Homo sapiens: one gene and its partners. The protein of the gene in region 4 interacts with the protein of the main gene of each other region in a pairwise test. Each region holds a gene or a part of one and is shown on either strand. Other genes may lie near its edges.

Region 1 (7,023 bases), on a different chromosome or scaffold from region 4:
GTTGGGTCCCCTCTCAATGCGGGTGCCCTAAAGAGTCATCGCTGAGTCCATTTAGGCAAAGGGTTAGAATGATTTAAAAGTAAAATGGTCTCCCAAACCCAAATCTAAGTAAACGGAGGGAGGGAAAAAAGAGTCAAGCAAGCCACCACGTTCCTTCGTTCCTTCTCCTCATTTCCACCCCCACTAAAAAACAAAACAAACAAAAAAAACTGCTTTTAGAAAAGTGAGTGGAAAAAGAGGCCAATCTATAGACACAGCCAACTGCAAATTTCGTTTTGTTTTAGAAATCACAATCTAAGTGTGGAAACTGTATAAAGCTTAAAAATAACCGCAACAATACTTTTTTAAAAAGTGAATATTCGTCGTTGTAATAAGATCAAGACCCAGCTGAGGCTTGGAACTATAAAAAGCTTATATTAAATTAATCTCCCTTTAAAGGGGACAATTATTTAAACTTTTTTTTTAGTAGCTTATCTTTACACTTGGAACCACCTGCCTTGATTCGCCCTTTAAACGAACAGGAAATGACCCGCACTGATTTTACTTAGTCGCATCTTTTCAAACCCACCAAAGACAAAACAGAATCTCCACTGCAGAAATTAAATTCCTACTGCTTGCTGCTAGTGTAGTAGGGTGATTGTTTAGAAACGCCTGGGGTTGTTTTCATACCCCTGTTGAAGGTCAAGGTTTTTAAAGGCAGCTCAAAGCTTTGGGGATGATCAGGGGTGAAAAGTGAAGGGAGATCTTTGGAGCCGCCGCGCTGAAGTCTCCGGCTACGCGCCGCCCCCTCCTCTAGCAGGAAAGCGGGCCGCTGGGACCCCTGGCTCTCCGAAAACAGCCTCGTCACCTTTCGCTACCCCTGGCTTAATCTAGGTGAGCTGATGATAGCATTCAGAACGGTTCCGGGAAAAGAAACAGGATTCGATACTTGCGGCTTCTGGCAGGAGCAGGCTAAAAAGCTCAGAGAACTCTTCAGAAAACTTTTGCAAACTTAACTACGCCCGCTGTGGACTTTGGACATGCTAATTCCTATAGGGCGGTTAGAGAAGGGGAAAAAAAATCCCTGACAGTTTCCCTAGTTAGTTTCTTTTCACTGACTTGAAGGCAGAAAAGTCTTACTATTTTATTTCCTGATCCTTTCATCTGAGGAAGACAAAATGGTTTGGGTGTTAATCCAGCGGTAGGGGCAGCAGTAAGTTAGCAGACGGGCTGTCTCTGCCGGGCTGGGTTATAACTTTTCCTACTTTGTATCAAAGCTAAGGCCCCTGCCAGGGAGGTCCCGACCGGCTCCCAGTGGATATCTTTGGGGACACCCTGATGTTTTCAGCCCTCCTGGGAGGCCGCCCCAGAAAGCTGAGACGAGTGCCTCCCGAGGGTCGCCACGGCAACACAGCATCCCCCACATCCCAAGCTAGGAAGACCGACCCGGGGCTGCGGGGGCCCCTTTCCAGAATCCGGCCCCGCCCGCCTGGCCGCTGCCCTCGCGGATCTCCCCCGGCCTCGCCGGCCTCCGCCTGTCCTCCCACCACCCTCTCCGGGCCAGTACCTTGAAAGCGATGGGCAGGGTCTTGTTGCAGCGCCAGTGCGTAGGCAGCACGGAGCAGAGGAAGTTGGGGCTGTCGGTGCGCACCAGCTCGCCCGGGTGGTCGGCCAGCACCTCCACCATGCTGCGGTCGCCGCTCCTCAGCTTGCCGGCCAGGGCAGCGCCGGCGTCCGGGGCGCCCAGCGGCAACGCCTCGCTCATCTTGCCTGGGCTCAGCGCGGTGGAAGGCGGCGTGAAGCGGCGGCTCGTGCTGGCATCTACGGGGATACGCATCACAACAAGCCGATTGAGTTAGGACCCTGCAAACAGCTCCTACCAGACGGCGACAGGGGCGCGGATCTTCAGCAAGCAGCTCCCGGGAGACCAACATACACGTTCAGGGGCCTTTATTACTGCGGGGGGTGGGGGGGGGCGGGGGTGGTTAGGGGAGGAGGGAGACTAAGTTACTAACAGTCCAGGAGGGGAAAACGTTCTGGTTCTGCGGATCGGCCTCTGACCCAGGATGGGCTCCTAGCAACCGATTGCTTAGTGCATTAAAAAGTGGAGACTATCTTCCACGAATCTTGCTTGCAGAGGTTAAGTTCTGTCTTTGGCTGTTAGAAAAGTTCCTGAAGGCAAAATTCTCATACACTTCCTAAAATATTTATGCGAAGAGTAAAACGATCAGCAAACACATTATTTGGAAGTTCCAGTAGTTAATGCCTGTCAGTTTTTTGCAGGTGAGTTTTGTCTAAAGTCCCAACAGAACACAATTATCTCCCGTAACAAGGCCACTTTTATCATGCAAAACTGGCTTCAGTCCCGAAAAGCAAGAGCTGAGACTTCCAAAGGTAGTGCTACTAATGTATGTGCACGTATATATAAATATATACATATGCTCTACTTCATAAAATATTTACAATACAATCTGTGGAGAATTTAAACACAACAGAAATCCATTAATGTACGCTGCAGATTTTTTTAAGTAGCCTTGAAAATCAGCTTCAGTAGTTGGAGCAGTGCTGAGCTAGAAGTACTTGTCATGTTCTCTGTTCTCTCAATGAATTCTGTCAAAACGCTCAGTGCAGAAAATTCAGCGTTTCAGAGATCTTCAGCTAATCTTAAAACAACAATCATAAGAAGGCCCAGTCGATGACACTCAGGGTTCTACAGCTCTCCCACATCTGTGAACTCGGGTTTGGGGATGTTGGTTAAGTTTGTGGCTGGTCCTCTGGTTTGTTGGGAGTTGAGCAGCCGCAGAGTCACACACATGCAAACACGCACTCTTCGGAAGGCAGCCACTGTCTACATCAGCTGGGTGACTCAGCCCTGACTCGGGCAGCAGCGAGACGATACTCCTCCACCGTCGCCCAGCACCCGCCGGTTAGCTGCTCCGAGGCACGAACACCCACGAGCGCCGCGTAACCGCAGCAGGTGGAGCGGGCCTTGAGGGAGGGCTCCGCGGCGCAGATCGAAACAGATCGGGCGGCTCGGGTTACACACGCACGCACATCCTGCCACGCACACTGCCACGCACACGCAACTTCACGGCTCGCCTCGGACCACAGAGCACTTTCTCCCCCTGTTGTAAAAGGAAAACAATTGGGGAAAAGTTCGCAGCCAGGAAAGAAGTTGAAAACATCCAGCCAAGAAGCCAGTTAATTCAAAAGGAAGAAAGGGGAAAAACAAAAAAAAACAACAAAAAAAGGAAGGTCCAACGCAGGCCAAGGAGAAGCAGCAGAGGTTGACTTCCTTCTGGCGTCCCTAGGAGCCCCGGAAAGAAGTGCCTGGCGGCGCAGGGCCGGGCAGCGTGGTGCCCTGGCTGGGTCCGGCCGCGGGGCGCCCGTCCCGCCCGCGCCCGCTGGCTCTATGAATGAGAGTGCCTGGAAATGAACGTGCTTTTACTGTAAGCCCGGCCGGAGGAATTCCATTCCCTCAGCTCGTTTGCATAGGGGCGGCCGGCGGCCAATCACAGGCCTTTCCGGTATCAGCCAGGGCGCGGCTCGCCGCCGCCGGCTCCTGGAATTGGCCCGCGCGCCCCCGCCGCCGCGCCGCGCGCTACTGTACGCAGCCCGGGCGGGGAGTCGGAGGCCACCCCCGCGCCCCGCATCCAAGCCTGCATGCTGGCCCGGGGCCCCGCCCGCGTGCGGACCCCTTTCCGCAGCCACACGCAGGCTTGTGCGGCTCCGCGAGTGGCCACGGTCCGGAGACCTGGAAAAAGAAAGCAGGCCCCGCCGGCCCGAGGAGGACCCGGCCGGCGCGCCGCACCCGGAGAGGCCCGGCCCCGCGAGCCGCTGCAGGCAGGCGCAGTGGCCGCCACGAGGCTCCCGAACCGGGCTGCAGCCCGCGGACGGCCCCAGATCCTGCGCGGCCGCCCAGGGCCAGGCCTCCGCTTCCAGGGCGGGGGTGCGATTTGGCCGCGGGGCCCGGGGGAGCCACTCCGCGCTCCTGCACCGTCCGGCTGGCAGCTGCGGCGAAGCGGCGCTGATTCCTTGCATGAGGCCGGACGGCGTCCGCGCGTGCCGTTTGCTCTCAGCGTCTTCCCTTGGGTCGGTTTCTGTAATGGGTGTTTTTTACCGCTGCGCCCGGGCCGCGGCTCGATCCCTCCGCGCGTCTCACTTGCTGCGTGCGTCAGCGGCCAGCGAAGAGTTTCCTAGTCAGGAAAGACCCCAAGAACGCGCGGCTGGAAGGAAAGTTGAAAGCAGCCACGCGGCTTGCTCCCGGGCCTTGTAGCGCCGGCACCCGCAGCAGCCGGACAGCCTGCCCGGGCCCCGCGTCTCCCCTCCGGCTCCCCGGAAGCGGCCCCCGCTCCTCTCCCCGCCCCCGTGCGCTCGAGCGGCCCCAGGTGCGGAACCCACCCCGGCTTCGCGTGCGGGCGGCCGCTTCCCCCTGCGCCGGTCCCCGCGGTGCTGCGGGCATTTTCGCGGAGCTCGGAGGGCCCCGCCCCCGGTCCGGCGTGCGCTGCCAACTCCGACCCCGCCCGGCGGGGCTCCCTCCCAGCGGAGGCTGCTCCCGTCACCATGAGTCCCTCCACGCCCTCCCTGCCGGGCCCTGCACCTCCCGGGGCCTCTCATCCACCCCGGGGCTGCAACCCAGTCCCCGGATCCCGGCCCCGTTCCACCGCGGGCTGCTTTGTGGTCCCCGCGGAGCCCCTCAATTAAGCTCCCCGGCGCGGGGGTCCCTCGCCGACCTCACGGGGCCCCTGACGCCCGCTCCTCCCTCCCCCAGGGCTAGGGTGCTGTGGCCGCTGCCGCGCAGGGACTGTCCCCGGGCGTTGCCGCGGGCCCGGACGCAGGAGGGGGCCGGGGTTGACTGGCGTGGAGGCCTTTCCCGGGCGGGCCCGGACTGCGCGGAGCTGTCGGGACGCGCCGCGGGCTCTGGCGGACGCCAGGGGGCAGCAGCCGCCCTCCCTGGACGCCGCGCGCAGTCCCCGGAGCTCCCGGAACGCCCCCGACGGCGCGGGGCTGTGCGGCCCGCCTCGTGGCCTTCGGGTCGCCCGGGAAGAACTAGCGTTCGAGGATAAAAGACAGGAAGCCGCCCCAGAGCCCACTTGAGCTGGAACGGCCAAGGCGCGTTTCCGAGGTTCCAATATAGAGTCGCAGCCGGCCAGGTGGGGACTCTCGGACCAGGCCTCCCCGCTGTGCGGCCCGGTCGGGGTCTCTTCCCGAAGCCCCTGTTCCTGGGGCTTGACTCGGGCCGCTCTTGGCTATCTGTGCTTCAGGAGCCCGGGCTTCCGGGGGGCTAAGGCGGGCGGCCCGCGGCCTCAACCCTCTCCGCCTCCGCTCCCCCTGGGCACTGCCAGCACCCGAGTTCAGTTTTGTTTTAATGGACCTGGGGTCTCGGAAAGAAAACTTACTACATTTTTCTTTTAAAATGATTTTTTTAAGCCTAATTCCAGTTGTAAATCCCCCCCTCCCCCCGCCCAAACGTCCACTTTCTAACTCTGTCCCTGAGAAGAGTGCATCGCGCGCGCCCGCCCGCCCGCAGGGGCCGCAGCGCCTTTGCCTGCGGGTTCGGACGCGGCCCGCTCTAGAGGCAAGTTCTGGGCAAGGGAAACCTTTTCGCCTGGTCTCCAATGCATTTCCCCGAGATCCCACCCAGGGCTCCTGGGGCCACCCCCACGTGCATCCCCCGGAACCCCCGAGATGCGGGAGGGAGCACGAGGGTGTGGCGGCTCCAAAAGTAGGCTTTTGACTCCAGGGGAAATAGCAGACTCGGGTGATTTGCCCCTCGGAAAGGTCCAGGGAGGCTCCTCTGGGTCTCGGGCCGCTTGCCTAAAACCCTAAACCCCGCGACGGGGGCTGCGAGTCGGACTCGGGCTGCGGTCTCCCAGGAGGGAGTCAAGTTCCTTTATCGAGTAAGGAAAGTTGGTCCCAGCCTTGCATGCACCGAGTTTAGCCGTCAGAGGCAGCGTCGTGGGAGCTGCTCAGCTAGGAGTTTCAACCGATAAACCCCGAGTTTGAAGCCCGACAAAAAGCTGATAGCAATCACAGCTTTTGCTCCTTGACTCGATGGGATCGCGGGACATTTGGGTTTCCCCGGAGCGGCGCAGGCTGTTAACTGCGCAGCGCGGTGCCCTCTTGAAAAGAAGAAACAGACCAACCTCTGCCCTTCCTTACTGAGGATCTAAAATGAATGGAAAGAGGCAGGGGCTCCGGGGAAAGGGAACCCCTTAGTCGGCCGGGCATTTTACGGAGCCTGCACTTTCAAGGACAGCCACAGCGTGTACGAAGTGAGGAATTCCTTTCCACCAAGAGCGCTCATTTTAGCGACAATACAGAATTCCCCTTCCTTTGCCTAAGGGAGAAAGGAAAGGAAACATTACCAGGTTCATTCCCAGTGTTTCCCTGGAGTAATGCTAGAATTTACTTTTGTCATAATGCAAAATTAAAAAAAAAAAAAATACAACGAAGCGATACGTTGGGCGGATGCTACGTGACAGATTTTTCCAAATTTTGTTGCGGGGAGAGGGAGGGAGGAGAATTGAAAACGGCTCACAACAGGAATGAAATGTACATTTCTGCAGTGGATTTAAAAAGTACTGCTTGGTTAGTTGGAAGAAAAATAATTTCATTGGAAAACAGTAACAGTGCATTGACGTTTTTCTTCTACAACTTTAGGTAAAGAACTATAGGTGGTCTCAGAAGATAACTAAATCTTTTACCTTTTTGCTCTTTCAAAAGCCTCCCCAAAATATGCATAAAGATGGGATTAGAATCTCAACAATTCTCTTAAAATTACCCTTTGCGAGCAATATATTTCCAAAATCACATTTGTAAAAATGCAGTACGTCTAAAAGAATTATTTCTATTTTAAATGACCATTTACATTTTAAAAAATAGAATGTATCTTGCTATGGTTTGGAACCAAATAGCTGCAGTTTGTATTGATGTCACAGGGATGGAAAACAATTTTGATGAAGAGTAACATGTATGTACAAATCACCTGCCATACACACTATCCAGTTTTGAACATTGGAATTTAATTAAACATTTTTTTCT
Region 2 (7,023 bases), on a different chromosome or scaffold from region 4:
GTGTGGTTCCCTCAACACCTGAATTAGAGAACAGTGTTGTTGGTTCTGTTTTATTTTTAAGAGAACAGATATACCTATACAATGAAACTGGCTACACTGGAGATCTAGAATTCTAGTTATAATTAGCTCCTCCAAAAAGTAAATTTTTTAAATAATAAAAGTAGATTTGGTCCTTACGGGAAAATAATTCCTAAATGATAAGTGAAGTTTAAAAAATAAATAATTTTGACTGTTGCAATCATTAAGCTTAAGTATAAAATGCTGTTTTCACAACAGAAGTGAATTATAAAGAATTAAACAGGCTGGGTATGGTGGCTCACGCCTGTAATCCCAGCACCTTGAAAGGCCAAGGTGGGTGGATCACTTGAGTTTGAGACCAGCCTGGCCAAGACAGTGAAACCTCACCTCTACTAAAAATACAAAAATTAGCCAGGCATGGTGGTGGGCACCTGTAATCCCAGCTACTCAGGAGGCTGAGGCATGAGAATTGCTTGAACCTAGAGGTGGAGGTTGCAGTGAGCCAAGGTCGCACCACTGCACTCCACTCCAGCCTGGGCAACAGAGAAAGACTTGGTCTCAAAAAAAAAAAAATAAAAAAAAAAATAATAATAATAATTAAACAAAAAAGCTGAAGCAAATAATATTGGTCTATTTAATATTTACTCTTAAACTTTAGATCTGTTAAACAAATGATGGATGATTTTGCTTATAATTAAAGATTAACTAAGACACTGCCCAGTATCCTGGCTCCAGTGTTCTCCTAGCATCTACTTCAGTTGCAACGTCATGAAGACAGATACACTGGGGGTGTCCACACACACAGACCCCTCTGGAATCTGCCATGAAGATATTTAAGGCTATGGGAAAGAGACTACAGATGGATCCACTAGAAATTGGACAACCAACTTAATCTAATTTTCAAAACTTAATGTTGAATTTACTAAATGTTATCATTTTCAATCTCTTCTAGCAAATAACTAGGCTTAAAGAAATGTCAACATCAAATGTTGAGGCTTTTACAGATCTCAGTGAGAATCAAATGCAGCACTGGGATATTGGGATACTACTTAAAAACCATCCAGAAACAGGTTTACACAGCAGTCAGCTACACCACAGAAGCGGCTGAGGGGGAGGCTGGCCGTTAGGGGTTAGGGAGTAGGGGCTAGGAGCTAGGGGCTAGGGGCTAGGCGTCAGGGGCCAGGGACCAGGGTCCCAGCTCAGCAGTACTCTTCTTTACCAGACTGTGATCAGAAGGCCAAGGAGATATGGAATGACCCCAGCTGCACTCCCCCTGGCCCCACACCCTTTCCCGTCATCATCTGATGTGATTCGAGGGCTGTCCTCTCACTCACTGTTGCCATGGGTCACCCTGTGCTAACCCTTTCCCTGTGGTAACAGCAACTTCCGGGGGTCCTGGTGGGGTACCACCCAATAATGTCTGACTCACGCCCCCATCCACAGGAGCACATGACCAGAGCAGAGCAAAAAGGTGATGGTTTCCCACACAGATGCCAGGAAATAGCCACTAGCCCAATCCACAGGGAAAGTCAGCCTGGCAACAAAGCTGACCACAAGGACAGGCAGAATCCCAAGGACCCTGTCACAAACTCTGGATGTAGTCATGTCTGACACAGAAACACCTCTTAATTTCCGGGCTGAACCACCTAACAAATCCCTTTTTTGGGATATGCCAGGTTGCATTATAATCAGTCACTTAAAAGTGAGAGTTCTGAGCTACACAGTAAAGGAGGGAGGGAGGGAAGGACTGGTTCTGAGTATTTATTGCTCTAAAACAGCCCTGACTGTACCTGTTTGCATGATTCCAAGACTCCGCTGTAAGAGTTGCATCTGAAACTGATGGTCACCAAGGCCTACCATAACAACATCTTTACACACAGTCAGGTAGGTCTGTAAGAGACAGACACAGCTTAGCAACAAAGGCCATTTTTAAAAAGGGAGTAAATCCAGCCTCACAAAGCTTCTCCTATCCATGTGCTAGTTATCTTATAAAGCAGATTTTTATAAAGATGTTTTATAAAGGAATTTTCATAAAGATACATTAATTCTTGTTTTTGTAAGAAATCTAGAGACATATTTTATGTAATTCCACAAACATAATCGAACACCTCTTATATGTAATGTATAAAATTACACTGAAAGTATGCAGTTTACGCTTTGCAAAAAGATAAACTAGAAAGTTAGATAAATGTCCCTGTAAGTTTTTAAGAATAACACTAATGTCTAAAATTACCACTCTAAAGTAGAAAATGAAATCCTGAAACATAACAAACTTGGTAAAGAGAAAGTTTTCTGTGTCTTAAGACTTCTAACCTGGATAATTTGCTGATAAATGACCCTATGAAGCTTCAGGTAGTCTTCTTCTTGATCTTGAATAAAAGATAAAATTTTGCTTTCTAACCAAAAGCCAGTGTCTTCCAACATGGACAAATACACCTTTCCTTCTGAGCAGAACTGTCCAAAAACAAGAAGATAAATCAGTAACAAAAAGAGCACTGTGTATCATCCTAATAGAGGGCCAGGAGCAGGCACACCTTGTGCTGAAGATGGATGCTCAGGCGACAGTGGAGACCAAAGGCTCGCGGGGCAGCTGCTTCACTGAAGCCACGAGGCTTCCCACCCGGTGTCTGCAGAAGTGACTCCAGATCTGCCTGTAATAGAAAAAACCCAAGGGCCACATGCTGACTGACAAGGCACCACCACACCCCGTACAGCAAGAACAATGGGAAGCACCTGATCCTCAGGCGAGCTGAAAAGACCCCCGCTCTGGTGAAGCCCAGTGTCTGCTGACTCTGCACCCGGACATGAGGTGCTGGGTGGTATGGGAAAATGTACAGCCAGGTGAGCAGCCTCAGCTCACCGTCCACAGCCCTTGCCCTGCACGCAGCACCACCCGTCCCCTCCCTGCCTCATGACCAGGCCCCGTCCTCCCCATCTGCCTGGCTCCACTCTGCTGGGGCTTTGCTTCTGGTACAGTCACACTTGAGGGCAGCGTAACAGGGTGTTCAGAGGGCTGGCTCCTGGAGGAGAGGAAGAGATGACGGCCTCCGTGGGACAGCTGGGAGCATGATGGGTTCCCAGGAAATGCTCTCCAAACATTCCCAGAAAAAACTGCCAAGGACTGCAGGGAGTGAGTGTCCACATGAAAGGGTATGTGACACATCTCCTGCAGAGGGTGTGTTCTGAGACACTGGGGCCATCCTCCTGAGTCCTAGCGCCCTAGCAGGTGCAACACAAATGTGAGATTTCTGAACACGTGTCAACTGGGACTTGACTCCCAACCTTGCCCTGGCCAGGCTCCATGCCTTGTACCAACTGAATGAGGTGACATGATCACTCTCAATTCTGTTCCAGCCAGAACACTTGTATAGCACTGTAAATATGAAAGCTTCACACTTTGATTTGTCACCCCCACAATCATAGGAAACCACTCAACTCTCAGGGCACAGAGTTACCTTTGACGTTTCAAGGGCTTTCAAAAGATGGTTAAGTTTCTTCCGAGGAGCAGAGAGCAAGCACTCGCGGTTCTTTGGATGAGTCAGCAGATACTCAATGTAGACCAATGCCAATTCAGGTTTGACTGGGCGTGTGTCATGGATCTGCACCCTACCTTTAGAAGCTGTGTTGCTCTGAAAGAAGAGAGAGAGAAACTGATAATGAAAACACACGTCCCTAGAAAAGCATGTAATTTCTAATACACAGTTATCCTCACTCACCTAATTTTAAGGAAACATGATGTCAACCTACCTTGGCCTGGGCATGCTCTGTGGGCAGCCAGTTGTCAACAAGCTCCAGAATGTGCCCCACCTGCCCCCAGGAGCAGAGGCAATCCAACAAAGTGCAGTAGCTCTTGTCCACAGCGCCCTCCTCCCGGCTTCTCAGCGTGGAAATCACACCACAGCTGAAAATGTCAGACGGAAAATCGGACTGAGTATTTCAACGGAGACTCCCCAACTTTGTCAAAAGGTGAGGAAAACCAAGAAGCTAAAATCTGACGGTGCATAAGCCCTTGTTATTATATTAGCACTTCCATGCTCTCCAATGCAGGAATAAATACAGTTTCCCACAATTGCTGCTCAGCTGCATCCCACCACAAGACCTGAGACCAGCTCTGGACACTGAAGAAGCAGGGCACAGCAGCCACACAAAGCCCTCATCCTTCTGTTTCTGTGCCATCTGTCAGATTCTAGAGCAAGAGTTTCTACTTTTGAAGAACAATTTTTGTTTAGCATCAAAATATTCCTTTTTCTTCCACAAATATGAATAAAAATAATTTTTATTGAGATAATCACCAACATTGTAGAGCTCTAATGAAAAATATTATGAGACACAAAAGCCACAAATGTAATTAAAAATTTTCTAGTACCCACATTTGAAAACACAAAGAGAAACAGGTAAAACTAATTTCAATAACATAATCTTATTTAATCTAATCTATCCAAAATCATTTTAACATGTAATCAATATTTCACACTCTTCTTTTTGCCTCAAGGCTGACTCCATATGTATTTTGTACTCACAGCACATCTCAGCTCAAATAGCCAAAGCCCAGGTGCTCAGGGCCACATGTGACCAACGGTGACCTTGTGCTCCAGAACCTCCCACACCAGGTGCTAAGAGTAACCCCAGACTTAAAGTGGAGTAACAGTTTCAGTTCCATGCAGTCTCTTCTTTCATCACGTACTAACTTAGGGCCCATTGAAAATCACATCCTTGAGGGAGGTGGGGGGGTCAGCCCCCCACCCGGCCAGCCGCCCCGTCCGGGAGGTGAGGGGTGCCTCTGCCTGGCCGCCCCTACTGGGAAGTGAGGAGCCCCTCTGCCTGGCCACCACCCCGTCTGGGAGGTGTACTCAACAGCTCATTGAGAACAAGCCATGATGACAATGGCGGTTTTGTGGAATGGAGAGGCGGGAAAGGTGGGGAAAAGATTGAGAAATTGGATGGTTGCCGTGTCTCTGTAGAAAGAAGTAGACATGGGAGACTTTTCATTTTGTCCTGTACTAAGAAAAATTCTTCTGCCTTGGGATCCTGTTGATCTGTGACCTTACCCCCAACCCTGTGCTCTCTGAAACATGTGCTGTGTCCACTCAGAGTTAAATGGATTAAGGGCGGTGCAAGATGTGCTTTGTTAAACAGATGCTTGAAGGCAGCATGCTCGTTAAGAGTCATCACCACTCCCTAATCTCAAGTACCCAGGGACACAAACGCTGCGGAAGGCCGCAGGGTCCTCTGCCTAGGAAAACCAGAGACCTTTGTTCACTTGTTTATCTGCTGACCTTCCCTCCACTATTGTCCTGTGACCCTGCCAAATCCCCCTCTGTGAGAAACACCCAAGAATGATCAATAAAAAAAAAAAAAAAAAGAAAATCACATCCTGATATTTTCCCTACCACAGGGAGAGGGAAGGGCAGAAGGAAGAGGCCACAGTGAGCTGAAAGCTAAATGTTATGGTCTGCTGACATGAATTAATAATTCAGCACAACAATGGACAGGATTCCTACTTTTCTACCGTACCAAAAAACAGAGCAAATACCTGAATGGGGGGACAGCAGAGGCCGGCATAAAGGACATTAGCATGAATAAAGGGATCTTGCAGCGATCATCCTAAAAGCGAAAAAAGAAAAACAAAACAAAGCATATGTAAGCACTATAAATTCTGAAAGTCTCTCTACGTAAATTCCTGATAACTTACTACCAAAGTTGCTCAAGAAGAACCATGGCAGTCCTTTCCACGTTCAAAAGGAAAACTTAAACCAGCCTCATGTTTGAGGGGCAGAGAAAATTACTTGGTGAGTGTTATGGAAGTTTTATATAACATTTTACTACTTTGCAAATATTTATTAAGCACTTGCTATGTACCCAGTACCAATCTAGACCCTGGGAATATGCCAGTAAGCAGGATAAACAAAATCATATGCTGTCATGAATTGAATCTACTTTAAAAAACAACACTGATGAAATGAAAAAAAATTAACTCTATACACTTGGTATCCTGAACACAAATCTCAAAAGAAGGAAATTATTCAGAGAAAATGTTATAAAACAAAATCAGAATATCTTTAGGAAGACAGTATAGTTCAAGGGAAAATGCAGTGGGGCATAGTGGCTCATGCCTCTAATCCCAACGCTTTGTGAGCCTGAGGTGAGAGGACTGCGTGAGGTCAACAGTTAGAGGCTACAGTAAGCATTCACTCCAGCCTGGGCAACAGGGCATTATATTTAAAAAAAAAAAAAAAAAAAAAAGGCCAGACACAGTGGCTCACCCCTGTAATCCCAGCACTTTGGGAGGCTGAGGCAGCTGGATCACCTGAGGTTAGGAGTTCGAGAGCAGCCTGATCAACATGGTGAAACCCTGTTCCTACTGAAAATTCAAAATTAGCCAGGCATGGTGGCTCACGCCTGTAATCCCAACTACTCGGAAGGCTGGGGCAGAAGAATCGCCTGAACCCAGGAGGCAGAGGCTGCAGTGAGCTGAGATTGTGCCACTGCACTCCAGCCTGGGTGACAAGAGCAAGACTCCATCTCAAAAAAAAAAAAAAAAAGAAGAAAAAAAAAAGTAAGCTTTGAGGCTACTGAACCAAATCTAGACCCAATCAGATTCTGTAGCCCAACAGCTGACATAGCACAGAGGAGAGGAGTTAAGCTCTCAGAGTCAGTTTCTCCCTTTGCAAAAGGAACACAGGACTGTTGGAAGAACCAAAGTGAACTACACCACACAGAATCCCAGTACAGTATTTAGAGTGTCCTCAGTGCTTAGTAAATTGCAGCTAAATTATTATTACTAAAACAATAAGTAAAAGGGGGTACATCCACCCTTCCTCAAGAACACTCAATAAGAGATATTCTTGGCTGGGAGAATGAGGACATGGTGAATCCTAAAATAATGATAATAATAATAATTTTCCTGAAAATACATATGAAACAGAAACAAACCAAAATCAAAATTTGATTAGGAATTAATTTGCATTCACAGTGACCCATCCTTACCCCCAACTAACAATATGG
Region 3 (7,023 bases), on a different chromosome or scaffold from region 4:
GAAGACTTTTGTATAAAATTACTTAAGATATCTGAATTTTTCAAATGTCGATTTTTTGTTGAAATGATATTTGAACAGATTGGATTAAATAAAATGTATTATTAAAATTAATTTCACCCATTGCTTTTTCCTTTATTTAATGTGGGCTACTTGGAAATGTAAAATTACACATGTAGCCCTCATTCTATTTATTTCTATCGGACAATACTGCTCCAGGGGTAGAGGAACAAAAGAATCCCAAAGATGATGTCCCCTTGAGTGAACAAGAAATCAAAATATCCTGGGAGAAGATAATATCACAGACATTTATTTATGTAGCTGACAGTTTCTCAAGACTTTGTACCAGGAACTTTGTTAGTCATTGAGGTTAACAGTGATTCAGAGATTTGCGTTTTTTTCTAGAAAAGCTGAAGGCATCAAGTAAAGGAAGAAGTCTGGGAGGTGAAAATTTGATCTAAGCAAGCAAAAACATGGTCTGAGAGATTGTGATCTTAATTTTAGTACCAGCTCTGCCACGTACAGGTGATCAAACATGAACAAACTACTTTAACCTCTTTGAGTCTTAGCAGAATCACCGGTTAGCACAAGTTTATCTCCTTCTGCTTCTAAATGTTAGGAGAAATTCTACTCTGGAAAAACCCAGCCACTTCGCCTTCTCTGAACCTGCCCCTTTGTTGGAGAAAATCATACTCCTGAGCAGGCTGACTCCGTCAAATTCAAATGGACTTTCAGCTCTGCTCCACAGTCTGACTGCTTTTCACGAGTCACCTTGCTTTCTCTAAGATAATTATCTCATAGATCTTCCTTTTTCCTCGAAGGCACTTGTTGCTTTCTCTTTTCCTTCCTCCAGCCATCAAACTCCATGGGGGACACATGCAGTCTAAGGGAAGCGCCTTTGTGTGCCCATCACCAAAGCTCCACACCCATCCCCATCAGCAACTGTCTTGCCCTACTCCCTTCCGGTTAAACTGTGGAAGCTCCAGGGACCAGTCTCCACCAGAGCTCAGGCCCTCTTCGCTTCCTGCCAACAGACTTGACTGTTTTGTTTATCTGTCTCTCCAGCTTTATCCATCTCTCCCTGGCCACGGGAGCACTTGCCATCCTTGGGGTCTCATTTCCCAGCCACTGTTCTCTGTCCATCATCTCCTTCATGGTTCACCTTCTTCATAATATCAACTTACAGGTTGTTTTCATGTCATCACCTCAGTCACCCTTCTGCAGGTCAATCAGACTAATGCCTCCAAGATGCCCCTGACATTTCTCTGATTTAAGCCTGTGAAGATCTGCACGTGGGCCTCAATTTCAACACCTCAACTGCACAGAACACAACCCACCTCTTCTTCTTCTGGTTTCTGTAACTTCATAGACTCTGGGTGTAGGAGGAGCGGTCTCTGAGCCCAGTTTCTCAATGTCTATCTCTGTCCTTTATCTTCTACCTAACATCTCATTTTAGATTCCTTTGTAGTCAGTCCTGAACTTTCTCTATTTCCTCACTAGGCAATCTCTTCAGCAACTTTAAAATCTACCTATATGATGGTCACTGTCAAATTTATAGGGTTGGGCCCTTGTCCCAGAGGAATTCCAAGCTCATGTGAAATTGTCTATTTGATGCTTCAACTTGGATGTCCACCTCTCCGACTCAACATGTCCAAACTGGAAAAATTCATCTCTCCTTCCAGTCTTCTTCACTCCGTCGTGGCTCTGTTATCTACCACACTGCTCGGCCTCGGGCAGAAGCCAGAACCTGCGGCATCATCCTTATATCCACCTCTTTCATCTAATCTTTTGGCAAATCCAGTCATTTCTAACATCAAAATCACCTGAGAACCTGCCCCTTTGCTCCACCTCTGCTGACGTCTCACTGGTATAAACCACCAACCTCCCCGCTTGGAGGATTCCTTCCATCTCCTCTGGTTTCACTTTCACATCTCAACGCACTATTTCTACTACAGCATCCCAAAGTGGGCTTTCTACTACAAGTTGCACAAAATACAATCATTTTTCCAGGCTCCAAAGAAACCCCGCATGACCCAGGCCTTGGTGCCTTCCCCAGTGTGGGCTTCCAGTCTGCGCAGCCCTTGCAGCTGTCACCACACTGGTCCCATTTCAGTTCCTGGAACACATTGGACTCTCCCTCAGCAGGGTCTTCCAGCCTGTAAGGAGCTTCCTTCCTCCTGCTCTTCACCTAACCAGCTCTGTCACTCTTCAGCTGTCAGTTTCAATGTTCCCTCCGTTGGGGAGATTCCCGGACCACAGAGTCTCAGTAGGCCACATGCTTACTCTCCACCTTGCACCTTGTTCACTATCTTTGTAGCACTTAATATAAATCGAAGCCATACATAGCTGTTTATTATCTGTTTCTCCAACTTCGCAGGACCACGTCTGTTTTGTGTTATGCTGTCATTGGAAGAATGCGGTATCTTCCATGAATCAGATACCCAGTGAGGATTTGTGGAATGAAAAAGGAAACGGTGGGAGAAGGAAGTCAAAAGATTTCATAATGAGTGACAGAGTGGAGTAATAGACATTGGAGACTACAGATGGCAGGATGGGAGGGAGGGAGGATTGAAAATTACCTATTGGGTGTAATATTCACTCTTCGGATGGTGGGTTCACTAGAAGCCCAGACTTCCCCACCAGGTAATATAGGCATAGAAGAAATCTGTACTTGTAGGCCAGGTGTGGTGGCTCATGCCTATAATCCCAGCACTTTGGAAGGCCAAGACAGGTGAATCACCTGAGGTCAGGAGTTTGAGACCAGCCTGGCCAACATGGTGAAACCGCATCTCTACTAAAAATACGAAAATTAGCCAGGCGTGGTGGCATATGCCCGTAATCCCAGCTACTCAGGAGGCTGAGGCAGGAGAATCTCTTGATCCTGGAAGGTGGAAGTTGCAGTGAACCAAGATGACACCACTGCACTCCAGCCTGGGTAAACAGAGTAAGATTCCATCTCAAAAAAAAAAAAAAAAAAAAAAAAATTGAAAAAAGAAATCTGCACTTGTACCTCCTAAATACATATAAATTTTTAAAAATTTAAAATTCATAATGATACACTGCCCATGTGCTAGCCCAGTTTCCCCCCTCCATTAGGTAAAATGTAATTTGTCTTCCGATTATACCTCAACGTTTACTCTAAAAGAAATATTTGCTTCTCAACATAAAATTATGCCTCTGTTATTATCTCTAACCTTGTAAATGCCATGTTGCTGTATCTTATCATCATTTGCCTTTATTTACTCTTTTACTGTCACTTCTAGCTGGGGGTGCCACAAGGATTATTCTCATATAATTAATCTAAACTATGCTTTCTGGCCACTTTCTATGCCATTTTTCTGGAAAAGTAGAGCAATGAAAATTCTTCCTGTATATAATTTGTGTATATTTAGGAGGTACAAGTGCAGATTTCTTTTTTTTTTTTCTTTTCTTTTTGAGATGGAGTCTCACTCTGTTGCCCAGACTGGAGTGCGGTGGCATGGTCCTGGTTCACTGCAACCTCCGCCTCCCGAATTCAAGAGATTCTCCTGCCTCAACCTCCTGAGTAGCTGGGATTACAGGCTTATGCCACCAGGCCTGGCTAATTTCTAATTCATCCTCTGGTTTGGGTAATTCAGTAAGAATCATTATTGAAGAGGAAAGAGTTTTGGGGAGATGGATGTTCACTGATAAATGGGAGGATGCAAGTTCTGGCATTATTCTGAAGAATTCGTGGGCTGTAACATTTAACGTTCTGATAAAAATCACTGCACGTCAAAGAGGAGTGTAAATACTCACCATGGTTTCTCGGCTATTGATAGCTGATCCTGTGCACTTTGCTATAACTTTATCAATACACTTCTTGTGAATTGCTGCATTGCATTCTGAAAAGAAGAAAAAAATCACAGCTTAAGATTTTCATAGCCTAAGGAATAACTAAATAAAAAGAATGATGGTAATGCAACCAAAACCCTCTTACTTACGTCGGCACTGGTAGCCCTGTTTGTTCAGGCCCCTGTAATAAAGCACACGCTGATTTATTTCAATGTTGGCATCAACATCAGCACCAACAGCATTTAAGAGATGGATGAGATCTCATAACCCCCTAAGATCACAGAGCAGTTTCTGATCAGCAGCCCTGTTGTATCATTTGCCAAGAGTATTAACAGAGTGTTTTTCATTTGAAGCTGCGTTTTAAAAAGTTTGATAATTAAATAAATGAGAACTGGCTGATTTATCATCCTTGTATTTTCCAAACATATAGAGATTAAAATGCATGAATGAAAATGCATGCATCACAGACTCTTCGTAGCACGTTTCCCTGTGCTAGATTTAAAAATTCATGGCCTCGCTGAGCTCACTACAGACGAACAAAGACATCTGTAACATTTTATTTCCTCTTTCTGAGCATCTGAGAATATTTGCAACCAACAAAGTCTCACATGCAGGACCGATTCCTGAGTGACATCCATGATTAGAGAGAAAGGAGGTTCAAGTGATTAGACGAAAGCAGGCTGATGAAAACCCGCCAAGTCGATCTGGCATGTGGATACCCTGGTTACACAGGAGCTGTGCTTTAACAGTTTCTGCAGTAGCCTAAAGGGAAGAGTATCCCTTAATAGGCTAGGATGCTGAGAGCCAGAAACAGGAGTTATTTCAAGTCTCCACTCTGTCATAGCCTTTGCTATGTGGTTACTGAGGTTTAAACTGATCTGTTTGATGGCTATTAAGATACCCAAGAGCCTCATAAGCATTTAAACCATTAGCTACAATGGCAGAGTGCTGCCTGCTGGAAAAAGTAGCACCAGCAGGGTTGGGCCATTAGGTGGGGGAAGTTTTGACTATAAAACTGGAAAACTGTTTGTAATAAAGATACCTTTCACTTCTGTTTCTTCCCACTTACCCCCAATAGCCCCCCCATTGAGGCAGAAACTAAAATCCCATGGGCATTTTTCCTGACTAGACCTGGCTTCCTCATGCACCTCTTTTATTGGATCACACCATTTGAACCTTCTCAGTTCAGGCAAGGTCCCTGACAACGCTGAGGTAGCATTTACTCCAGCACACCCCCCACAGTGGAGCATGCCAGCGTAGAGGATTAAGAAGACGCAACAAAATGCATAACCCGAAGCTTGGAGGGAGATGCCAAGTTACTGTACCAGACAAACTCGTGGCAGACAGAGCAAAATGTGGGCTGTGGGAAGAAGGTGGCAGTGAACTCGTGGCACTTGACGTGGTGGACCTTTGCCTGCTTGATGGCACCCCGGCGCTGATGCAAAGCAAAGAAGCCTTCCGTCTCAAATTCATTCATGTCCTTTGTGTCTACAGGAAGAGAGAGGGGAAGAAAGTGAAGTTCTGCAAAAGGACGACTCCTATTCTAAGCTGGGTCAGGAGGGGAGGGAGATGGGCAAGGGATGGAGGAGGACCAGCTCTGAGTACCTGCTGTAACATTCCAGGTACTCATTATGGTGGGTACCACACTAAGCATCTTTCCTCAAATTCTACAACACAGATTCATCATAGGGCATATTGTTAGAGGGTGAAAACAATGTTGGATTGCTGGCTCAATCCTTCGCTCCTCTTTGACTGGGCTGAGCGATATATCCTCTTCAAGTTTCAAAACCAGAGATTAGAACTTTGAAGGGATCTATCAACCTCTCTTTGTCACCATCAATGATGACTCAGTCAGAAAAGGCAGGAAGTGGCAAAGGCTTTCCTGTCTGTAATTCTAGAGAATCACATGGTTACTGACAGCCTCTTGGGAACAGCATTTCAGAGGTGCCAGGATGCTTTATAGCAGGTTGTTGGAGACATGCTGGAGTAGACTAGGGGGAGCTGACCAGGATTTTGTGTGAGGAGAAAGGAACTTTGGGACATTGTGTCCTGGTTCCTGATGTCCACAGTGATCAGACACACCAGCTGCCAACCATATTTACCAATGTGAAAAAGGCCAGAAAATTAATAGCTCACTGCATTTTTTTGGTGTCTAGGTAATCCTGTGCATTACCTAGTCATCAGCATCAAACCATCAGATTCAATCTATTCATTTTACTCTGGGCTCATAAATATTGGTGAAAGTGCTTTGGATAGTCACTGTTTACAGTGCCCTATACCTGAATGACATCTTTCCAAAGGGTTGAAAAACTAAGATAGTCAAATTATGAGAATGCTCAGGATGCCCTTGCTGAAGCCCAGGTCCTCATGAAACACCAAATTGTAAGGCAGTCATGGTTAAACAGCACAGTGGACACAGCAGGTGAGAGAGAATAACACAAGGAACAGTAAAGAAATAAAAATATCCACTGCTGTAACAAAAATGATACACAAATAAATATGTGAATAAATAAATAAGGATAATGAATTTAAATCCCAGAGTTATAATTTTGTAATAGCTTGAAGACTCTTGGATTACTTCTTCTATTTTGTTACAAATACAAAACATTGAGGTTTCATTTAAAAAGCAGGTTCATCATATTTCACAATGAGTTAATAATATTCAAACTAAATTTCTTCTATTGTGGCTAAGCAGTGGCAGTAGCCTGACAATGCGTTTGGGGCAAATTATCTTCCAAGATACCTTATTGTCCAATCCCTAACAGTGGCTAGATTAGAAACACTCTAGGTAGACAAAGGAGGAGCTGTGTGGGTAGAAACCTCCCCCAGGAATCCAGCCACATCCCAGGACACATTGTAGGACTGAAGTCTTTTCTGTAGTGTCCGCAGATTTGTTTTATGGCAACCCCAACTTCCAGACAAAAAGCATTTCCAGTAACCCTCTAACAGTTCCACAGATGGGACATAATACTTTGCCTAATACTTTAAGAGTAGGTAATTTTGGTCTTTTTACCTGGAACTAGGCTGGAAATAATAGATTTGGCTTGGTAAATGAGGGGTTAAATTAAGGATCACTGAGTTAATCACCTTCTTCCACAAGTTCTGGTCTAAATGTCCAAATCTATTTACAACTTGTGACTAGTATAGTAGGTCATTTGTTTATAACATGTGACTTGTTTCTATTTTGGTCCAGATGAAATAAAATAAAATAAA
Region 4 (7,400 bases):
CCGGCCCCTCTGAATAGGATCTCCACTCCGCCGGAAAGGGGCGGAAGCCGAGGAAGAGGATGCACACCCGGGTCTTTGCTTTCCCCCTTTTTCGCTGAGAGGCCTGCAGTTACGCTGCGGTGTGGTCCTGGGCGATCTGCCGCGCCCAAAGCGAGTTTCCAGGAAAGATAGGGGTGGAGAGAAAGAGGCAGGGCAAGAGGGAGGGAGAGAGAGAAATGGGGGTCAATGGCTGGGAATTACCTCCTGTCCCCGACCAACCAGTCCAGGGAATCGCAAACAGCTTTCCGCCCCCAACCTGCAGGTGTTTGGAGCCTTTCCTCTACCCCCTCCTCCCCCCACCCGCCTTAAAAAACCCTATACATGACCAATCAGGAATAGCTATTTAGTCCAACAGCAACAACAACCCCTCCCGACAGGCTGTCTGGAACATTTTCGAACCCTCCAACTGGGATCGGTCTGGTTCAGTGTTTGTTTTCTAAGCAGGGAGGTGTCTACGCGGTTGCCTCCTCAGCCAGGTCTCCGGCTGCCGCTACACCGCGAAGGGATAGTCCCGGGCCTGGATGGGCGGAGGTCCGTGTTGGGAAAGGCGAATAGTCTTCAGACTCTGGTCGGTGGGACAGAACCTTGAAGTCCCCCCCACCTCATTCTCTCTCTGACCCCCATCCACCCACCTCCAGCCCAAAGCGAAACCAGAACCCAATTCCAGGGGCTGTACTTTCCTACAGAAATGGAGTTGGGAAGGGGGCTTGGAGAGAGATATCTGATCTGTTCAGGTCCTTTCTCGTCTCCCTACTGATTAAGAGAAAGAAGAAAGAGAGAGGAAGAGAGAGACAGAAAAAGAAAAGGAAATAAAGACCAACAAAGGGGGAAAGAAAGAAACAAAGGGGAAAAGTCCCCCACCTTCCCCTCCACCACCCCTACGAAATGATTTTCGATTTTTCGGGGTTTAGACAGAGTAAGGGAGAATTCTAATGATTTGTTACAGCAATAAACAAGGTAAAAGGAAAGGAGGTAAAAACAAACCCGACACTACTTTCAAGGATGTAGCAGGATTGAGCTTGCTTTTATTTTTTCCTAGTGGATTTTGTTTAATTTGTTTTGCCTAAATCGTCAGGCTTATGATCACACATCGAAGTCTTGGATTAACTGCGAAGGCCTCCTTCTATTTGCCGCGGCTTTGGTGGACATATAGGAATAATTCTTCCCTGGATTGCAATACAATGCGGAAGATTTTCTTTCTCCTCTTCTAATCCAAAAGAGGGGAGGGGAGGAAAGAAGAGGGGAATCCATCCATTCCCGGCGTGTTCGCGGGGGGTTAATGTTGCGTGTTCGCTGGGGGTTAATGTTTGCCTTATGACCAAGTCTCTGTGTCCGTGCCTCTCTCCATTTTCTCTTCCTACCTCAAACCCAGCAACTTAGAAAACGGCTGTAGCGGAAAAAAACCCGCTGCTTTGTTCTCCCGCCAAAGGAGCCAAAAGGGACAAACTGCTGCGCTCTGGGATGATTATTTTAATTAAAATAGATGTTAATGATGACGATTGTGATGGTGATGGCATTAGCAATTACAATAATTGACAAAACAAAATTCTTTCAACCCGAGCTAGGGCCCCACTAACCCGGTCCCTCCCAGAGCCCGGATTCGGCCTCGGTCTCGGATGCGACGGGTATCAGACCCAAGCGGCAACGTCGCTCACCCGAAGAGGGGGCGGGAAAATCTTCCCAGGAGGTGATCCCGAATGTCCCCACCCGAGGCTCGAGGCCTGGTGAATGTGCCCATTGTCCTTTCGGGGCCTCTCCCTTGGAGCCCGGCGGCCGCACCCACGAAACTGACCAGAAATGGATGAAGCCGGAGTGCAGCGGGAACCGAAGCCCGCAGCTACCGGCTCGAAGGCGCCGGCCTCGGCGAGCGCTGCTCAGCTTCAAGCCTGGAGGAGCCTCCCACTCACCAACGAACCCCTCAAACACCTAGGCACAGGCGGGCCTCCGGGCAGAGCAGCCGCCGACCGGGCGCTGTCCGCCCACCCAAGCCAACAACTGGCTCCCGAATACATCATAATTTGGAATAAAATGTGAAATCCCGCTCCCCGCCCCCATGCCGCCGCCCCCACCAGCGCCTCGATCTCTCGCTCGCCCTCCCCCCACTCCCGCCCCCAGCGATTTGCAAACGCACCTCTAAAGGACACAGGCACACAGGCATACAACTCAGTGCGGACAGGACCACACAGGGTCCAGCCCCACAGAAGGGCAGCAAACAAACACCACCTAGCACTGCCCCAGAAGCCGACTTGGTCAGCCCCGCACACTGCCCAACAGGACACAACGAAATCAGTCAAACGCAGCGGCTCACGGACACACAATCCAGCACAGTCGGGATCACACACGCCCGACATAACGACGACACCACCCAAACACAGTCGCAGGGGCCACACACCCCCACACACAGAATCAGATCCCTGCTGAGAACACCAACGGAGCACAATCGTACGCAACGAAGAAAACGCAGAAGGGCCTCGAAGGGTCCACATCTACACACCCCAACCGCGCAGGCACACCACACTCGGACACAGAGCCTGTCGCCAAGAAGACCACACTTAGAAGCAGCCAACGCCGCCCACAGTTCTCATGAACGCACTCTCACAATCCCACCGCATGCACACAACCACGAAGAAGAAATGAAAACCAACCACAGCCTCGCGCATTTCTGTATATTGCGTAAGGAAAAGGGGGAAGGAAGGAAGAGAGTCTCCGAGGCGGGAGGGGCGGCGGCAGCCGGGGCGGGGGCGTCCGTGGAAAATGCCCCCCCACCGCCCCCCCCGGCCATCGAAAGGAACCGAGGGAAAGGGAGCGAAGACCTCTTTTGCGGACGTGGGGAAAAAGAGGAGGAAATTGATGAAGAATTCGGTGGGAGGCCGCGGGTTGCTTTTCCCCTAGAAAAAGGCCAGAATGCTCACGTTTTTCCGCTACGGGGGTACGCGTGTGGCCATTTTGAGGCCCGGTCCTGAGCGGCGGCGGCCCGGCCCCTCCCGCGGCCCCCGCTCCCCCGCCCGCCCCGCGCCCGCCCGGCCCCTCCACCGACGCGCTGTAATCCCACTCACGTTCCAGGCCTCGTTAGCATGGGCCGAGGCGCGCCGGGGCCGTGTGCGCCGCAGAGATAAGGCACTGCCGCGGGTCCGCCCGCCCCCGATAAGCGCCTCGGCCATTATGGGCCAAATGATTCATTTTAATTTGGCAATTTCACCGGAGGGAGTGGGGACTGGTTGAGCGGCGCTAGGACCGGCTCCGGAACGCGCTGCGGGGAGCGTTGGACGCGCTGTCTAGGACCCAGCAGATCCAGCCCCCATCTCTAATCCCAAGGCCTCTCAGGAACCCCAGCTTCCCACAACCTCAGTCCCTTAACCTTTCAGACACCTTTCTTCAGCGACTCTCACCCCAGCACTCTGTCCCTACCTCTGAAGACCACCATGATACCAAAATCGTCACCTCCCAGGGCTTCTTTCTTATTCTTCCTCCAGTGTCCCAGACACCCAGATTTCAATGGGCAGTCTCCCTATCCCAGAAAGCTCCCCAGCCCTTCCCTACCTCTTCACCCCCTTCTAAAATAGAGCCGGTAACTCAAATCCATGGGCTCTACGGCGGCCTGGCAGAACCCCTGTCAATAGGGACATAAAATGCCTATTCTGCTAGGTTTCAGGCTGAGCCCAGAGCCCAGGAACACTGCTCCCCACATGGTATTTAAAAAAAAAAAAAAAGTTTAATCTAGCGACTGTAACACTATTCTAGGCATTCTGCAAATACTAATCTACTCTTCACAAACAGTCCTGAGAAGCTGGATCCTTAATTTACAGAAGAGAAAACTGAGGCACAGAAAGTCAAAGTAACTTTTCGAATGATACATAGCTAGTGCTTGGTGGAGTCTGCCTTGGAAGGAAATTTGACACGGAGTCTTCTCTGCGGCTCAGCTGATGAAGAGGGGCAGCCAAAACCTAGCCAGGGAAAGGGACCTGGGCTCAACTCATTGCAGAGACCAGGGTCTTTACTGTGGGGTAGAAATCTGAGTTCAGTGCCAGCTGGATGATGCGCTCAGCCCACGGAGGGTCTCTGGGTTCATTCTTTCATGGTGGAGTGGAAAGAACACATGTTCGAATTTTAGTCACTGATCTCTGAACCTCAGTTTTCTCATTTGTAAAATGGGGAGATAATGTCGACGTCACAAAGTTATGAGAACTAACTTATATGACCTTTAAAAGGTGGTGGTGAGGATAATAATGTATGGAACGTCACTCAGTCCACAGCCCAGGAAAACATCATATGCACTTGCATGGGAGTTCTGGTTATCATCATAGAGAAAGAAATTAAGACACAGAGAGATGTGACTTAGCCAAAACTTACAGTAACCCAAAGGAAAAGCCAGGACCCAAACTTTGGTGTCCAATTCCCAGTCCACAACTCTACTTTCCATGCCAGGCTGATTTGTCCTTCTAGTGTCTCTGCTTTTGAGCTTTTTTTGGAGCCTGAGAACTGGGGGAAAACCCCTACTCTGGTAACAAACTGAGTCCCAGTCAAAGACTGAGCAGAGAGCATGGCCCCAGTCTGGGATCTGGCTTCTCCTTGGTCATCAGGTTGACCCTCTGAGAAGATACAGTTAATTCAGTGCCGCCTGTCCCCTCTGTTCCTCCTGTGCTCTCTGAAGGAAGTCAGGCTGTCATGGGGATACAGATAACTCTCACAGAATCCCACATCCTAAGAAAAAGTCTAGTTCCCCCCTACCATAAGGCCTTTGCTTGGCTCCATCACTTATTAGAAAATGAGAGTCATATAATTCTGAGTCTGAAACACAACTCTGCCATTCCTGGGCTGTGGGACCCTTAGAGAAGTGATTTCATGTCTCTGAGCCACTGTAAAAACAGGCTAGCCATTCCCATATGGGAGAGCCCAGGTGGGGACTGCTTCTCTGAGAAAATGAGGCCTGGACTGAGATCTAAGAGTGAAATTTGGGGGTGCGAAGAAGGGGGGTGGGGAGAAGCATCAGTATCCAGAACCTTCCAGGTGGGCTGAGGAAACAGCTGGACCAAGGGCTAGAACAGAAGGGTGGTAGGTTCGTGAAAAGAATAGAAAAGTGTCCAGTATGGCTGGAGCATGCTTGTGGACAAGTTAAAAGATTTTTTGACATTTTTTTGTTTGTTTGGTTTGAAGGTGGGGGTGGTACCTTGTATAGAATAAGATTTGCATTTCTAGAAAGTTCTTTGGATGAAGTGTGGAGGGGGAAGGACTCTGGGAGGCCAGTTGTGGAGCCAATGCAGTGGTTAGGGGAAGCGGATTAGAGCTTGGACCACTGTGCTGGCAGAAGAGATGACAAGAGGCAAGTGAAGATGACATGTATTTGGGGTATAAAACTGGGTTTATAATAATTGGATTTGGGCCAGGCATGGTGGCTCATGCCTCTAATCCCAGCACTTTGGGAGGCCCAGGCAGGCGGGTCACGAGGTCAAGAGATCGAGACCATCCTGGCCAACATGATGAAACCCTGTCTCCACTAAAAATACAAAAATTAGCTGGGTGTGGCAGCGCACGCCTGTAGTCTCAGCTACTCAGGAGGCTGAGGCAGGAGAATCACCTGAACCCAGGAGGCAGAGGTTGCAGTGAGCCGAGATCGCGACACTGCACTCCAGCCTGGCGACAGAGCGAGACTCTGTCTCAAACAAACAAACAAAAAAAGAATTGGGTTTGGGGGGATGAGGGAGAGGAAGGAATCCAGGAAAACCCCTGGGTTTCTGGCTGTCCTGCAGAGCTAGTGGTGGTTATTCCTGGAGATGGGGAACCTGGAGGCTGAGGGGACATGGGGAGGGCTTATATATTTGGTTTTGAACTCCTTAAGTTTAGATGCCTTTGAGACACCTGCAGACTGTTGGATTATTTTACAGGGCATTAAATGTCCCCAGCCAGCACCTCCAAGGAAAGTGTCCTTTCCTGTGGTGAAGGAATATGGACAGGTGGAAAGGCGTTTCTCAGCCCTGTGGCAGAGGGTGTGCCCAGGCCTCTGTCTGTGGAGCGAGGAGGTGACGTTCACCAACCCTCCAATTCCACACATTTGTTCTCTGCCAAGCTCCAGATTCTGACAGTCAGGCAGCCACTCCCGACCTCATCCACCAAAGCCCTGCCAGGGGCTGGGGTCTCATGACGTCTACATCTGCCCCCTCCCCTGTTTCCGATGGTCAGTGGAAAAACGGAAGCTGTGCGCTAAGCGGGGCGCTGCCTGAAATAGCATCTGGTGCCTGTCGGTCAGCGAGTTGTCCGAGCGTCCACGAGAGAGTGACAGGCCGGGGCCAGCCAGGAAATGCCACCCCTCCTCCACCCGCCCCAAACGGAGGCCCCAGTCGGGCAGGAAACCCGGAGCGCCTGGGGTGGGGGTGGCGAGGAGGGAGGGGAGGTTGAGACCCAGACTGGTAAGTCTGGAGTCTGGAACTGGGGCAGCAAGAGCAGGGGACAAGAACAGGCTAGCTAGGCTCTGGCCCTGAGGCCGTTGTTCCCCACCACCAAAGGTTGGGTTCTCCCTAAACCCCAAAGCCAAGCCTCTTACCATTTTTCAAGTGTTTCTGCCTGCCCTCTCTGAGTACTGGACTATCTCTGAGCTTCTCCCCCGAGCTTCTTCTCCGGAAAGATGCCATGCATGCACTCTGATGAGCAGCCGAGTTTATTTTTAACAAATCTACACTGCAGTTACTGTGTGACAAGTACTGTCCTAGGCACTTTGTAAGTATTAATTCAGTTAATCCTTGCAAGAACCTAATGAAGTAGGGACTACTCCATTTTGTAGGTAGCACAGAGAGGTTGAGCAACTTGCAGAGAACACCCAGCAGGTAAGTGGTGGAGGCAAAATTCACACCTAGGGCAGTCTGGCTTCAGGCCACAGTGCTTCGAAAGCAGCAAAGCAAGCACAATGGTCAGGCAGACCTGAGCTCCTATCCCTGCTCCCCTAGTTGCCAGCTGTATGATACCAGGCAAATTACTTAATCTCTGAGGTTCACTTTCCTTATTTGCAGAAGAGAGGTGCTCATTTTCCATACATAATACTGTTTATATAAGGATTATTTTTAATGAGGAAAATTTCAATTTGAGGAAATGTCATTATTTCCCTCTTCCACTTTCAAAGGACTATTCTCTCCATTTTTGCCTCTGTCTCTTGCCCTGGAAGAACCCCTACCCCATCAGTAAGCAGGCCTCAAGAATTCCGAGCTTGGGAGTCACGTCTGTGCTTCCAAACCCCAACGCTGCTGTCAGAATTCTCAGGGATGGAAGGAACTTCACTCTCAGTGGCTCTCAAAGTGGATGGTCAGCATCACCGAGGAACCTGTTAGAAAAGCAAATTCTCAGGCCTCACCCCAGGCCTACTACTACTACTC

What was found.
Region 1: the proteins of TAL1 (region 4) and RUNX1 interact in binary tests that used the Homo sapiens proteins (3 or more experiments, as listed by UniProt).
Region 2: the proteins of TAL1 (region 4) and NCAPG2 interact in a two-hybrid assay, tested with the Homo sapiens proteins (one study listed by BioGRID).
Region 3: the proteins of TAL1 (region 4) and PRKCQ interact in a two-hybrid assay, tested with the Homo sapiens proteins (one study listed by BioGRID).

The regions. Positions count from the first base shown.
Region 1 is NC_000021.9:34,885,297-34,892,319, forward strand, and holds part of RUNX1 (runt-related transcription factor 1), read right to left. Parts: intron 4,786-7,023; exon of another isoform or gene 4,597-4,785; coding exon of another isoform or gene 4,381-4,596; intron 4,176-4,380; coding exon of another isoform or gene 3,510-4,175; exon of another isoform or gene 1,817-3,509; coding exon of another isoform or gene 1,801-1,816; coding exon 1,547-1,800; intron 1-1,546.
Region 2 is NC_000007.14:158,652,787-158,659,809, forward strand, and holds part of NCAPG2 (condensin-2 complex subunit G2), read right to left. Parts: intron 5,623-7,023; coding exon 5,552-5,622; intron 3,920-5,551; coding exon 3,766-3,919; intron 3,648-3,765; coding exon 3,474-3,647; intron 2,670-3,473; coding exon 2,553-2,669; intron 2,473-2,552; coding exon 2,332-2,472; intron 2,004-2,331; exon of another isoform or gene 1,909-2,003; coding exon 1,809-1,908; intron 1-1,808. UniProt on the Homo sapiens protein: Regulatory subunit of the condensin-2 complex, a complex which establishes mitotic chromosome architecture and is involved in physical rigidity of the chromatid axis.
Region 3 is NC_000010.11:6,493,261-6,500,283, forward strand, and holds part of PRKCQ (protein kinase C theta type), read right to left. Parts: intron 5,299-7,023; coding exon 5,136-5,298; intron 3,992-5,135; coding exon 3,960-3,991; intron 3,861-3,959; coding exon 3,775-3,860; intron 117-3,774; exon of another isoform or gene 1-116. UniProt on the Homo sapiens protein: Calcium-independent, phospholipid- and diacylglycerol (DAG)-dependent serine/threonine-protein kinase that mediates non-redundant functions in T-cell receptor (TCR) signaling, including T-cells activation, proliferation, differentiation and survival, by mediating activation of multiple transcription factors such as NF-kappa-B, JUN, NFATC1 and NFATC2.
Region 4 is NC_000001.11:47,229,216-47,236,615, forward strand, and holds the start of TAL1 (T-cell acute lymphocytic leukemia protein 1), read right to left. Parts: upstream 3,011-7,400; 5' UTR 2,952-3,010; intron 2,675-2,951; exon of another isoform or gene 2,633-2,674; intron 2,501-2,632; exon of another isoform or gene 2,442-2,500; intron 2,048-2,441; exon of another isoform or gene 1,832-2,047; intron 1,827-1,831; exon of another isoform or gene 1,695-1,826; intron 557-1,694; exon of another isoform or gene 439-556; intron 137-438; 5' UTR 1-136. UniProt on the Homo sapiens protein: Implicated in the genesis of hemopoietic malignancies. It may play an important role in hemopoietic differentiation. Serves as a positive regulator of erythroid differentiation.